Linked DNA regions of Homo sapiens: region 2 is linked to region 1. Evidence: fine-mapped expression QTL. Tissue or cell type: cerebral cortex. Region 1 holds a variant in brackets; the other region holds the start of a gene. All regions are shown on one strand. Distances are between the middles of the regions.

Region 1 (8,017 bases):
TTCTTATGCCAAAAAACCTCTGTCAAACATGTTAATCAGTCTTCCATTAGGATACTTACTATCTAAATGTAGTTACAAAAAGAAACACTTTTCACTGAATGACATTTGAAAGTCTTTCAGAGATTTATATCTCTCTATTCCGTGATAAAATGTTATCATGCCCATCTGATGGGTTTATTATAATAAAATAATCCAGAATAGGGGGAACATGGTTTTTTACAGGTTTGTGAGACTTAAGTATATCTTCAGAAATGAGTTATGTGCATTTTTCTTAGAAGAATTAGGCTTGTTGTATTAATGACTATAATTCTTTATAGTAGAATTCCTTAAAATAGCATTGTATTAAAATTATTCAACACTCATTTGCGAGTAGAAAGGAAATCTTCCCCCATAGATGGACACTTGAGCTCTTGTTGGTTTTAGCATCTGAACTGAACCAGATGCCTGCATTACTCATGAGAAATTAAAAAGGATTTCTGGGAGGCCATGAGGGCTTGGTGGTGCTGCTGTAGTCAGCGGCTCCCATGTCCCATGTGGCTGCATTGCAGAGTTCCTTGGGCTGTCTTTGCTCTGAACAAACCCCTTGCAGCTGTGCCCGGCGCCTTTGTGACAACCCAGGCAAGGTTTCATGAAATGGATCTGATGTTCTTGTGCCTGTGTTATTCATTCCAACATACTGGAGCTATGCCCAGGAAGGTGAGGGGCAGCAGGTTGGCCCACACACCCCAGCTGTCCGTTTCTACTAATGTCACTCAGGATATAAATAAATTGATTCATTCACTTCCTTTCTTATCAAACCAGAATGTTGCCAGAAGATACTACCAGGGCTGCCCAGATCAGTTGGAAAGGCCTTAGGGACAAATCTTTAAGAGGTAAACGTCTTTGCATTTAGGTAATATTTTAAATTAAGTTTTTAATTTTATTTTTCTTATTCACTTCAGACCTTGGAGGGAGAAAAATAACTTTGGTTATATGTTCATAACATTTGAGGTTTGAGCCTTCTTTATTTGTCCCATTTTCCAGATAGGAATTTTTTCTTTTTACTGTATTCTTTTTTTCTGAGACAGGTTCTTGCTGTGTTGCCCAGGCTGGTCTTGAATCCTGAACTCTTGAGCTCAAGTGATTCTCCCTCCTCAGCCTCCTAAGCTGGGATTATAGGTATGTATCACCACACCTGCCTGGCTTAGGGCCTTCTTTATTGGCAGAAAATTCATGATGAACTTTTTTTTTTTTTTTTTTTTTTTTCTGAACTGGAAAAGCTATGAGTCATAGGATTTCATAAAAATGCGGTGGCTCACACCTGTAATCCCAGCACTTTGGGAGCCGAGGCAGGCGGATCACGAGGTCAGGAGATCAAGACCATCCTGGCTAACATGGTGAAACCCATCTCTACTAAAAATACAAAAAAACTAGCCAGGTGTGTGGTGGCTGGTGCCTGTAGTCCCAGCTACTTGGGAGGCTGAGGCAGGAGAATGGCTTGAACCAGGGAGGCGGAGCTTGCAGTGAGCTGAGATCATGCCACTGCACTCCATCCTGGGCTACAGAGCAAGACTCTGTCTCAAAAAAAAAAAAAAAATGTGTATCCCTTAACCTTCAGACAGCTGATGAGTGGTAGAAGCACTGGCCTGGAAGTACAGATTGCCGCTTACCACATCAGGCCTTTTGTTGTTTGTAGAAGCCTAGTTTGTATTGTTAGTTGGAAGTCTTTTGCCACCCATAGGGTAACAGCGCTATTGATCATCAGTCAATCAACTATTTACCAAGCAGCTCTCATGTAAATATTTATAAGGCAAAATGCTGGGTGCCCTGGGTCATGTGAAAATTTGTAAGATGCGATCTCAGCACTTAAGAGTGTAGCAGTGAAAATAAGCAGTATATGCAAGACAAAGTCCCTCCCCATGTGCCTCCAAATGATAAAAGAAACAATGATTTAGATCGTTTAGGAGGGTCTCTCCACCATTCCTCTCAGGTAACTTATGCTTCCAAATGAGCACGACATGTGAATCTGCTCTTGGCTTCAATGGTTCTTCATTCCTAGGTGATTCTCATAGTGCAGTTTACCTTGGCAAATGTTGATCACAATGTCTAAAAATACTTGCATTCTCTATGGCCTAAACACAAGCCAGTCATGTTAGTTGGGTGCTAACGAAAGAACAGAAGGATGGAAGTATAAGTGTGTTTGTTGGACTCCCTGATAGTTGCCGAACTGGCATGATGTATTTTACAGGTGCTTTAAGACTTTTTAGGGTAGTTCTGAATATATTTTATGTTTGTGTTGCTTGTTGACTTTAGGACTAACATAATAAGACATAACTTCATTTATTTCATAAATGCCAAGTGAGTGTATAAAGACAGTATTATCTGTAGACATTTGGCCAAAAAAAGACAGAATTTCCAGGCCAAGCCATTAAAGCAAAAATAAAGATGGGTTAGCTACAGTGGCTGGTATTTCAAAGTCCCACAAAAAAAAGGCGGTGTCGGGGAAGAGCTGGGCTGTAGTCGTGGTCATAGAGGCAGTGAGGGAAAAATGCAGTAACATCGTTGTTCTGTATACCTCTCCTGCTCTTATGACCCCGTCACTGGATCACCAGGCAGGAGTTAGGATTGAAGTGACTCTGTACCCGAATTATGGCAGGATGTAAGGGACAATAGGCAAATCTTAAGGTGAAGAGTCTAGAGGAGACCCTTCTAGACTGGGACCCCAGAGTGCCAGCTATAGTCTCCATATGTAAGTCAACTAGAAATAAGCCCTCCCTCTCGTCCACCCTTCAGTCCCTCAGGCATTGAAAGATAACTGGCTATCTGGAAACTTGGTGCTAAATGGAGTGGAGAAGGGGAATCTCCCCTGGTAATTTATAACCACAAGCTGGACCCCTTGTAAGCTTGGGCATGAATTCACATTCTGGAGGTAGCCTGAAAAACTTCAGACTGAGAGTTTAAGGTGGTCCTAAGGCACCTAGCAGAATCAAATGCATGTTTTATCTGGAGGAATCCTCCTCCAACCCAAACCTCAAATAATTCCCACAGGTAAAGTTTTGTGAGATCAGAGTTTAAAATCACAAAACAAATAAAGAAACATGGCACCATGAGCAAAGCCAGCAAAATAATAGATAACAGTGTTAGACTAAGATAATTGAAATTGCCAAATAGTGCAAAATAACTTTTCTCATATGTTTAGAGAAATTAAAAGAGAGAGTAAACCAAGAGATTAAAATTATGACCAAGCAGATTTGAAATAGAACTAAGTAACTCTTTTGGAATTGGAAAATAATAATAATTAAAGTTTAAAAATCCATGGATGGGCCTACCTGCAGATTTGACCCAGTTCATTGAAGAGAGCTTTAATGAACTCAAAGATGGATTTAAAGAAATGATCTGGGCACTTGTCTTTCGAGTCGCCTGCTTAGCCCTCTTCTAAGTGTGCTTTCCTTCCTGCTCTGAAGCTTTTTGATAAACTTTCCCTCCTGCTCTAAAACTTGCCTTGGTCTCTTCTTCTGCCTTATGCCCCTCAGTCAAATTCTTTCTTCTGAGGAGGCAATAATTGAGGCTGCGGCAGACCTGTACAGATACAGATTCACTGCCGCTAACATATTTTGGTGCCATGTGACTTGGATACCTTCCGCCGGTAACATACTTTGCTGTGTGACTCGAATACATTCCCTACTTGCCATCAAGCTTCAGATGATCCTCAGTGAGGGACACCATCCTCTCAATATTCAAGAGTCACCCTTCTACAAAGGACCCCTAGACTGCCCATCAGTGGAACAAACAGAGGCACAATCTTGCCCCTGTCTCCCTTGGGCCTGGCTGGATCCCACTTTCACCAACCCACGGAGCCTCCCTGCCCTGACAGCTAGCAACAGGCCAAAACCCACAGAACAGCCAACTACCACCTGTCAGTGGAAAGCAGTTACAGAAGACTGACCTTCATCCATTTTCCCCAAAGAATTGGGATCTTGGACTCTTGAGTCAGGAAAGGTTACAGTAGGTAGTCAGACATGAGCAGGGCAAGAGAGGGCTCCTGCCCTACCCCTTCCCACCACAACCAGGAATGTCAGGTGACCATCAGGTGATGATCAGGCAGTTGTTGAAACTGTCTCTCTAAAATAATAATCAGTTGCAGCCAGCACCAGGGAAAGGCAGTCTCCTTATAGATAGGAAAAACCTGAAACTAGTGATTAGTAGCTTCCTGATAAGATCTCAGGAGTTGGGGGAGTGGGCTTGAGCATGTGCACTAAGAGGCAAAATGGCGGCCTTTAACTGGCATATGACCTCCTAGGGACATTTGGCTGGTAAGGGAAAAACGCTTCAAGTGAGCATGCGTACAACTCCAGTAAACACACTGTGCATGCTCATCTCCCAAGTGCTAGCAGACCACTGCATCTGCATATGTGGACAGCCCACTCCAAGGGAAAAACCAGGGGAGAAGAGATGCAAGACGCCAGAAGTATGCCAGCATATAAAACCCCAAGTCAGAAGGTCAAACCTCATACTTGATCTCTCAAGCCACCTGCTTGGCCCTCTTCCAAGTGTACTTTCCTTC[C/G]TTTTGTTCCTGCTCTAAAGCTTTTATAGATATATAATATATATTACATATATTATTTTATAATATGTATTTTTTATAATATATATTATATATAAAAAAAAATTTTTTTTGAGACGGAGTCTTGCTCTGTCCCCAGGCTGGAGTACAGTGGCACGATCTTGGCTCGCTGCAACCTCCACCCACTAGGCTCAAGTGATTCTCCTGCCTCAGCCTCCTGAGTAGCTGGGACTACAGGTGCGTGCCACCATGCTCGGCTGATTTTTATATTTTTAGTAGAGACGGGGTGTCACCATGTTGGTCAGGATGATCTCGATCTCTTGACCTCATGATCTGCCCGCCTCAGCCTCCCAAAGTGCTGGGATTACAGACATAAGCCACTGCACTTGGCCTTCTAAAGTTTTTTAATAAACATTCCCTTCTGCCCAAAAAATAATAATAAATTGAAAAATAAATGATTGGGAATGCAGCACAGAAAGAAAAAGAGGTGGAAAGCCATTTGAGAAGGCCTAATAAATATCTAATTGGAGCTCTGGAAAGAAAAAATGGGACAACATTTGAAGAGATAATGGCTAAAAATTTTCCACAACTAGTGAAAGATACACATATTGCAGTGAATCACAAGAAATCCACACCTAGACACATCATACTTTAGAGCACTAAGGTCAAAAGATGTTAAAGCAGCTGGAGGGAGTGGAAGGATTACCAGAGCAATTCCAGTCTGATTGACAGCTAACTTCTCAGCAGCAAAGATGGAAACAAAAATACAGTGTAATGTTGCCATTGAGGAAAGGAAATAATTACCAAACCATAAATGTATTCTAAGCAAAAATATCTTTCATGAATGAGGATGAAACACATTTTCCAACACATAACACGCAAAAGAGTTTGTCACTAGTAGACCTTTGCCAAGGAGTCTAAAGAATGTATTTCAGACAGAGGAAGGTATTATAATACCAGAAGAAAGGTCTGAAATGCAGGAGGAATTGGGGGCAACATAATGAGCAACAAAATGATGATAATGTTCTTGTGAGGTTAAAAAGAAAATGAAAATGTCCAAACCATCATATCATGTAACTCAAGGAGAGCAGATGTTCAAAATTAAAGTCATTTAAGTTCATACTGTACAGTGAAAAGGTAAAGTTATTGATGAATTTTACCTTTATATAGTTAACATATACAATTGTTAAATGAATAAAGTATTTAAAAAAATAGAAAACTTCCAAAGTAGCAGAGAGAAAGTGGAATGAGATAGAGAATAAATCCACAAGGAGGAAAAGGAAACATGGAAGAGGTAGAACAAATAGAAAGCACAGCTTAAAACAGTACGAACAAATAAAAGTATTGGCCCTTTCCAAAATGTGAGTTGACTCAATGTTCCAGTGAAGGTCAAAGACTGATTGATTCATGAATGCAACAAATATGGACCAAGCATCTTCTGTGTGTTCAGCACTATTCTAGGCACTAGGCACAAGCCGTGGAGCAGTGAGCAAAACAGCCAAAAATCCCCAATAGGAGAGACAAACAACAGACCAAATAAGTAACACAAACCGTACATGAGAATGTGGGAAATGTTCTAGAGAGAAAAAAAAAAACAACAACACAGTGAAAGAAGGTAGAGAATGGGGAGGTTCGCTATTCTAAATAAAGTAGAGAAAGTGGCCTTTGCGGTGAGAACTGAAGAAGGGGGAATAAGCTGGCAGATATGGATGGAAGGGAACTCCAGGTGGAGGGAACAGCGGGAGCTCATGCCTGGAGGGAGGGATGTGGCTGCTGTGATTGGGAAATTCAAGTGGAGCTGTCATGTTGCACGAGAGAGCAGAGGAGAGTGAGAACAGATGAGGCTGAGAGATGACAAGGGGCCAGATCATGCAGGCCCTGGGGGCCAAGGAGAGGACTTGGCGCTTGTCTTCTGAGTGTAGTGGTAGCCATCAAGGAATTCTGAGCAGAGGATTTCACAGGATGGCTGTGGCTGCTATATCAGGCAGGGACAAGGTGGGAACAGTGGAGGGAAGAGAAAATGGCCAACCAGAAATAGTTATATTGTCAGCCTGGATTTTTAAAAAATAGACTTTTAGGCTATTAAAACAAGAAAATCTTACATAGGCATATATAAAGGATCAAAGAAAAAGGTTGGAAAAAGATATATTGGGGAAATACCAACCAAACGAAAGCTGATGTAGCTATATTTATCAGACAAAATAGATTTTCAGGCAAAAAAGCATAACAAGAAATAAAGAGGGTCACTACATTATGGCTAAAGGTTCACCAAGAAAGTGCTCAACCTTTTCTCGTCAACTTACTTTAACTAGTATATTTAATGTTTTTTTCATTTAATAAATACATATTTATGAAAAGTACATTGGGCAAAAAATTAACAGAACCATAAGAAAAATAGATAAATCTAGCTTTATATTGGAAGGTTTTAATGTAACTCAGTAATTGCTAGATTGAGCAGTCTGATAATAAGTAATGTTTCTGATAATAAGAACATTTAAGAGGCTGTGCATAGTGGTTCACACCCATAAACCCAGCACTTTGGGAGGCTAAGGCAGGAGTATCACTCTAGCCCAGGAGTTTGAGACCAGTCTGGGCAACAAAGTGAGACCGTCTCTCCAAAAAAATCGAAAAATTAGCTGGGCGTGGTGTGTGCCTGTGGTTCCAGCCACATGGGAGGCTGGCGCATCCCCATGCTTGAGCCCAGGAGGTTTAGGCTGCAGTGAGCTGTGTTCATGCCACTGCACTCCAGCCTGGGCAACAGAGCAAGACCCTGTCTCAAAAAAAAAAAAAAATCGAAATTTTAACTACATCATTAACAGGCTTGATCTCATAGGCGTGTATACAACATCACACTAAATAACTGCATAATGCACATTCTTTGCAATCTTCTATGGGGGAGTTGCAGAAACTACGTAGTAGGCCTTAAATCACATTTCAAACACTACATTCCTTGACCATAACGCAATAACAAAAAGATACTGGAAAAGTCCTCATATTTTTGGAAATTAAGAAAGAGTTAACTAATTTAAAAATCATAATTGGCGGGGCACAGTGGTTCACACCTGTAACCCCTGCGCTTTGGGAGGCCAAGACGGGTGGATCACCTGAGGTCAGGAGTTCGAGACCAGCCTGGCCAACATGCTGAAACCCTGTCTCTACTAAAAATACAAAAATTAGCCGGGTGTGGTAGTGGGCACCTGTAAGCCTAGCTACTCGGGAGGCTGAGGCAGGAGAATGGCTTGAAACTGAGAGGTGGAGGTTGCAGTGAGCCAAGACCGCGCCATTGCACTGCAGCCTGGGTGACAAGAGTGAAACCCTATCTTAAAAAAAAAAATCATAATTTTAAAATGTTGTTTAATATTAAAAACTTGACAAATGTAGGTAAAGTAATACCTAAAGGAAAATTTATGCTTACAGTGAGGGAAGAGGAGGGGCTGAAAGTTAATGTGCCAAGTATCTGGTTTAAGAAGTTAAAAA
Region 2 (7,528 bases), 870 kb after region 1:
GGGCTGGATGAGATGATCTGTAAGGACCCTCTAGATCTGACATGCCAAGATTCTTAGAAAAATAGAATGCAGTGGCAGAGCTCCCTACCATAGAATCTTCTCTTTAGCAATGGCTCTGCCCACACCTGAGACACCCTGTTCCCTTGGCTCACTCAACCAGTTGTCAGACTCACCATGATATGGTATTTCCACTGCGGGAGGCTGCAACTGCCCCAGGCCCTCAAAGGGCCAGATGGAAGCCTCTTCCTGGGGCACAGGCTCAGGTGCTATGCTCCAGGCCAACACCGCTGGGTCCTCTTCCCACTGCTCTGTGGCCAGGGCACCCACTGGGAGGGCAGCACAGTCTGCATACTGGGGCTCCGACTGCATGGGGATAGCTGCCCACATGGAGCCCTCCACCCCCTCCACCTCCAGCAGTGGCTCCTCTCCTAGCATCTCAGGGAAAGGCTCATCCAGGTTCTCTGCAGCCCGAAGGTCACTCAGCTGCCTGCTGGACCACCTGTCCTCTGAAGCAGCATTCTCTTCTCCAGGATTATCCATCAGAAGTGCCAGGCTGCTCTGGGCTAGTCCTTTATCTATAAGGGGCCCCTCACTTGCAGTTGAGAGCACCTGGCTCAACCCTTCTTCTCGCCACTGCTGCAGCAGGCCCTCACATTCCTCCTGCTCAGGGCCCCGAGGGGCCATGGCAAAGTCGCCCTCTACCTGGGGGGATGAGCTGTTCGCCAGAAGGACATTTTTTCGACATGTGAAGAAAGCATCTAGGAGGAAAGCCAAAATACCAGGTTATAAGACTGTCATCCAACCCACACTATTCTCCCAGCTAAAACATAAGCCCAATAAAAGCAAGACCCATATCCACCTTGCTCATCATTGTACCATCACTGAGCCTGCCTACCTTAATGCCTGAACATCATCATCATCATCAGGGCAAAGTATTCACTATGTGCCAGGCACTGTTCTTTACAAGTGTTGACTAATTTATATGGCAGGGATCTGATAAATATTCAGTGCATGAAAGAACAGCTGTCTCACATAATCTAGAACACAGATGGGCACATATACCCACACTCCTTTTACATGACTTAGTTAAGACTACTATTAACAAACTCTTTGGTTCTAAGAATCACATTACATTGCAACCAGCAACTGACTGTTAATCAGAACTGTGGGTTATGATCTAGCACCAAAATTAATAAAACTGACCTTGAACAATGCCCCTAGTCAGATGAAGTTACTCTTGACTGTAAAATGGGGACAAGAGGCCAGGCGTGGTGGCTCCCAGCACTTTGGGAGGCAGAGACAGAGGCAGCAGGATCACTTGAGGCCAGGAGTTAGAGACCAGCCTGGGCAACATAACGAAACTTCATCTCTACAAAAAATTAAAAATTAGCCAAGTACGGTGGCACATGCCCATGGTCCTAGCTACTTGGGAGGCTGAAATGAGAGGATTGCTTGAGCCCAGGTTGACGCTGCAGTGAGCTATGACTGCCCTTCTGCACTCCCGCCTGGGAGACAAAGTGAGACCTCATCTCAAAAAAAAAAAGAAAAGAAAAGAAAAAAATAAATTTTAAATTTAAAAAAATAGAGACAAGTTTGAACTAGATAATCTCTGAGCTTTTCTAGCTGTATAAATTCCCTAATCTATTAATGTATTCCAAAAGAAAAAGTCCTAAAGTAGACAGTCTCAAAAATCTATACAATTTACATCTTAGCAAGGGCCCTTAAGCCTTTTCTCAAAGCTACTTATTGTAATAAAATCTTCACAAACTTCATTATCTGCTTTCCCATTCCACAACACATCAGAGGCTATAAATTACAAGGTGCCAACAATCGACAGTAAGAGACAGCTGACATCTCTCTGATACTGCAGCCACCAATGACAGCCAACAGGCAAGAAAGAAAGTGGGAAAAACTCTAAAATTAGAGCCCCCAAACTCTGAGCACAGTATTTTGGTGAGAGCAAACAACTCCTACACTCACACACTCAACCATTTATTTACAGCACAGGACGAGTAACATGCACGATGCTGGCCCTCAATCACTAGACTCATTTTATTGGCAATTTTTTTTTAAAGGGAAGAAACCTTAAAAGTGGCTCAAATATTGAAAGACGGTTCAAATATCTTGTTTGGGGTCTATGTATATTTATGTCCTTCTAAACAATGGTTTTAACCACGGTGATTTTGCCCTCGGAAGACATTTAGCAACGTTCAGAGACACTGTTGTTGTCACAACTGCAGCATTGCTACTGGCATCTAGTGGTTAGAGGACAGAGACGCTGCTGAACTTCCAACAATTCACAGGACAGACCCACACCAAATGATCCGGTCCAAAACGTCAACAGTGCTGAGATTGAGAAACCCTGCTCTAAACCTATGTATGGGCTGGGTCGTTGAGCTTTAGCCTCAAGGACTTCCTGATTATCTGCCCCTTGAAATATCCTCTGTGTATACCAGATGGCAGAGGTTCTTTGGTTCATATGCACGAAGTTACTAGCTTTCAATTTTGGTAGATGTCTTTTGGTGGTGGTGGTGGTGGATTTTCAGCAGCAGAATGCTTTTGTTTTTTAAAAATCTTATCTGGAAACCAAATATGCCAAGTAAATATAAGTGGGACTACTGTAATGTGTAGGTGGGGGGGCGGGGGGGGCCCTCCTCTGAGATCCCTAGAACTCTACTGGTCTGGAAACCTCTGGACTAGTATACTGTATCACTAAGGCATTAGAAGAGCTCCAGGAAAAACAGCAACATAGTTAAAAGAATATGTTTAGTTCTCTGGAAACAATTACTTCTGTGGAGTTTCCCACATTCCTCAGAAGTATGGACACACAAGACATTCCTGAATTCACTGAGTGCCTACTGTATACCAAGCAATGTGTTAACACCAGAGATACAGCGAACAAAATGGACGTGGCCCTGCGCTCCTGAAGTTTGCATTCTAATGGCAGATACACAGTAAAATTTAAAATATTTCTATATGAAATATATATTATCAATGACACACACATTGCGTACCAATTGTGTAAAGTTCCACAAAGGAAAACCACAGAATATACAATTGGAGCCCTCATTCCTAAGTACTTCTTGGTCCTGTCCCATAAATTAAAGGCAAAAAGTCTGCGAGTTCCATGGGATCTCAGAAACTGATGGTCGCATAAAACCCTCCGTAATTTCAAAGCCCAGAAATAGAGAATGCAGACAAATTATGAAACAATAACGAAATAAACACCCCCTCTTTGAGGTATCGACTGGGCATTGCCCCCACCCCAGCACATCTCCCTCTAAACCGCCGGGAGTGGGGGCAGGAATGCTCCAAAGCTGAGATCTAAATGTGTCTCTGATTGAACGTCCGTTTTTCAACCAAAGACACCGGTGAGCGAGAGCTGCCAGGTGGCAGTGAAAGGCGAGTGTGAAGTTAACCTGGGGAAGATCGGTGCGTCCAGTACTTCGGCCATAAACCTCCCAGAGCCGACCCGCCTCGCCCGCTGAGAATTTGGGCACTCGCCTAGGTCCGAGCTACTACCCCTTCCCGACCCGCCGGGGTGCTGACTTGGCCGACCCCACAATTTCTCTGCACCCCCAGGGCCAGGAAAGGGCCCTGCCCGTCCACAGCTCCTCTCCACCTTAACCGCGGCCGGACGCCATCTGACAACAGGCGGGAGGAGGGGCCGCCCACGAGGGACGTCGGCCAGGTCCAGGCCTCGTGGGGTCAGGAGGGGCCCGCGGGGCAGGGGCTCAGGACCGCCTCCCTACACCTCGGCACTGCCCGGGGCACGGTAGTCGTGAGGCCCGGCCAACCGCACGCCGCCCCAGGCCCGCGGAGCCCCGCAGAGGCGAGCCCTGGCCGGGCTCCTGTCTGTCGGTACGCCTGGCCGGTACCTGAGAGGGCGCGGAAGAGGCGCGTGGCCGGCAGCAGCAGGTAACACAAGCACGACGCGATCATGGCCGGCCGCCCGCGCCCGCCTCCGCTCCTCACTGCAGCCAGCAGGTCCTCCCTCAGCTCGGCCCCGCCCCCGGCCCGGTCCGGCCCACGTGGTGCCGCCGCCGCGCTTCAACAACAACTTTATTGGGAGCGCAGGTCTACGGGTGCGCACGCAGGAAGTGGGAGGAGCCGGTTCCCATGGCAACTAGCCACCCCTAGCACCCGGCTGCCACCCAGGCGTCCCGAATTAAAATTGAGCGCCTCACTGGAGGCCCCATAGTGTTATTCAAAGGCCACAGTTTATTCCCACTTCTGCAGCTGACTAGGTGTCCACCTTGTTACCACACTATAGCCTCTCCGCCCCTCAGTTTCCTCACCTGTAAAATGAAGAGCTGGACTTTCTCTAAGGCTCCACTGAACCTTGACTTCTAGCCCTTCTCGACCCAGAAAGGAAGCGAGTTATTCCCCCATTTCCCCCGTTTTCCTGCCTCTACTTCCCTGTCTCAGATTCTAGGTCACAAATTGAGTCCTACCTTGCTTCAGGAAGTAAGACTTTGTCTCCTTCCCTACTTTCTAAACGGGCCTTCTTTTCCCTAATCTAGAAAAACAGGGTTTCCCATTGGTAAGGAAGTCAAGAAAGAAAGGAGAGAGGACAAAGAGAGGAGAGAGAGAAGGGAGAGAGGAGAGAGACAGAAGAGAGAAACTTCCACAAGGCCAGGGACCAGTTCTGGCTGGTTGTTTGCTCACTTTGAGGTATCTCTAATACAATCCAAGCACCTATTGTAACCAAGTACCCAGCTTGGAAGTTATATTCTTGTTATATACTTCTATTTCTTTATTTTTGTTCAGTTAACCACTAGGCACCCCCCGACACCCCAGCACCCCCCATACACACTGTTAGCATATCTAATTGTATGTTCGCTTAAAAGTTCCAGAGACTAAATCTTGAAACAATATAGGCATCTGTGGAAATCTCCACCAGGAGATTGATTCAAGGCTACAGTTAATTTATAACTCAGCCCAGCCCGAGATGATGCCAGCCCATTCACCAGATGGGCAGTAACTCAAGACAAGTCATCAGAACTCGTCATGAAGACCTGCACTGCCTCACCCCTTGCATACCCTCCATGCCAAAACTTCTTAAAGCCTCGCATTTTGCTTGGAAATGTGAAGCAGCTCCATTAAAGCAAAAGCCTGGATCGTTTTTCCCCACTGCTAGCTTTGGTTTATAATAAAGTCAGTCTCCTTCTACCATACCACGACCTTGCTCGTTGGTTTTGCAAGCGGCCGAATCTGCATTCGCTAGCACTACTAGCCACCACATAAGCCTTTACTGACTGGTTGAACAAAGCATATGTCACTAAATGAAGGCCAGTTCTGCCATCACTTCTGTGCCACCTGCGACCTCTTTGAGTCTCTCTTCCCCAGTCCCCCTCCCCCAATCTTCTACCCCAAACAGGCTCTGAAGGAGGGACTGGACAATGCACCCAGTTTCAGTACCCAGTGTCTGAGTTGCACGATTTCCAGTTTGTGGCTGGAGCCTTGGTTGTTCAGGGAAGCCTTCTGGGGAGTCACCAGATCCTGGACCAGCTGGGTACATCATAACACTGAAAGGCTAATAGGAGGAAGAAGGAGAGAGTTAGTATTGTGGCCTTCCCACTACTTACCCTTAGTTCTAGAGGTGGCAATGTCTGCCTGCCTTCAGGCAACAGCACTTATCCCTTTGAGATGAAACAGAGGCCCAGCAATCTGAAGGTTGGGAAGCTGCTTAGAAATTAGTGCACAAATGGTGGATCTACCAAAGGCGCTCCCGAGGTCAGGCCCCCTCCTTTGATGTAGCTTAAGTAAAACCCTCCTTGTACCCTCCTTCCATTTTGTACCATGAGTTATCCAGAAGTCCAAGTTCCAAATCAGATCCTAATCAAGGGTAACGGTTCCCTTATCTCCACTGGGAAAATGCTTTCAAAATACAAATTTCTAGGCCCTACTCCCAGAGTTCTGATTTAGCAGCCCTGGAATGAGGCCCTTAAACACTTACTTATTCCAATGCACGGTTTGGGAACCTCTGCTAAAGGATCCAGTCTCAACTGGGCTGTTCAGTGCACAGTGTGGGCACAATGTGTCAGCCCAACTGATCTATGTTCTTTCAGAGGCTTTTTCTGCGGCCAGTTAAGTGAGGCTTCCCTCTTTTTGTTTCCTGGTCCATAATCAGCCGTGTTGGAAGGTGTAGGGTGATATAAGGATCACAAGCTTTGGAGTTAGACCAACTGAGTTGAAATCCTGGCTCTGCCACTTTTTACCTGTGGAATCTCTCAGGTTGCCTAAGCTCTTGGGGCCTCAGTTTCCTCATTGTGCCTGACCCAGTATAAACTCTCAATGTTTACTATTACATTTTTGGATTTGGGCAGAAAAGCAGCTCCAGACGTGGCTGATGTAGGATCTTCTTCCACAATTTCTGGCTAAAATAGAGCTCCTGCCCTCCAAATTGTAATGAGTATTACTAAGCAAGCCAATAACTACAGGTTCCAAGGAGACTTGGCCGAAGGAGTGGAGCCTTAGGCTTCCCCAGTCAGAGGAAAATTACAAGTGCAATCTGCACAGTCTCCAGCCTCATTGTTTCAGAAATATCCCAAGAAGAGAGACGATTCCCTCAATTCATTCCAGCTGTGCTAACAATGAAGACAAGTATGAGCACCTGCATCCATCACTACCATGGTTTCCAGGGTGCAGAACCTATGTAATGGAGCAAGTGGGAGGTTTTGCAATACTTTGAGAGACTTAAGATGCTCTCTTAAAGGGACATTTCCAGTCTATAAGAAATTTAAGCCCTTGAGGGCTAAAATTTTACTTATGACAACAAATATATGTGGAATTCCAACAGAGTGGCTGCATTTATTAACTTATTGGTTGAACATGTGCAAATATTGGGGCGGCATAGTGCTTTCTTCAGGATTACAGAGGCTACGGACCAACGCCTGGGACAGTGCTGCCCAAAAGAAATATGTTGTGAACCACATATGCAATTTAAAATTTTCTAGTAGCCTCATGTAAAAAGTAAAAATAAATCAATTGATAAAGCAAGTGAAATTAATTAATAATATTTTATTTTACCCCATAGATCCAAAAATTTTGTATTTTAACTTGTAATCAATAGTTCAAGATGAGATATTTTATGTTCTTTTTTTGTACTAAGTCTTCAAAATCCAGTGTGTATTTTACTTGGACATCACATCTGAATTTGGACTAGCCGTATTTCAGGTTCTGAATACTGCAAGGAGCTAATAGCTACCGTACTGAACATGGGCTGTTCTGGAGAGTGCAAACAGCTTCTCAGATAGGATAGGCTGAAAAGATTTGCTCATCTTCAACTCTTACGATAACCTGAGGCCTCTACACTCCTAGTAATCTGCCTTCTCTGAGCCTGGTGTTTTCTTTGGGAATCTCAAGATTTATGACTAGGCATTCCCAGAATGTGCCAGATTAGTCTGAATTAATGCATTCATTTGCTCACTTATTCACTGATTCATGCATCCATGTGTTCATTAGAGATTTATCAGGCAGTCATCAATGTTTACCCCAACCTCACCCTTGACTTTCCTTGACCTCC

What was found. PIP is the estimated chance that this variant, and not a neighbour inherited with it, causes the effect.
Region 2: it holds the start of ANGEL1, and the variant in region 1 is fine-mapped to the expression of ANGEL1 in cerebral cortex (GTEx, PIP 0.93).

Annotation. Positions count from the first base shown.
Region 1 is chr14:75,940,623-75,948,639 of GRCh38, forward strand. The region is part of intron 31 of TTLL5 (tubulin tyrosine ligase like 5); the gene reads left to right. Among named protein-coding and RNA genes, the nearest start is that of TGFB3, 37 kb to the right of the region's middle. The variant C/G (reference allele first, on the strand shown) is at 4,544.
Region 2 is chr14:76,808,886-76,816,413 of GRCh38, forward strand. It overlaps ANGEL1 (angel homolog 1), which reads right to left and starts at 3,997. Exons shown (of 10, transcript NM_015305.4): 1 at 3,879-3,997; 2 at 174-758. The coding sequence starts at 3,942. RefSeq lists enhancers at 3,038-3,612, 3,613-4,186 and a silencer at 3,635-4,064.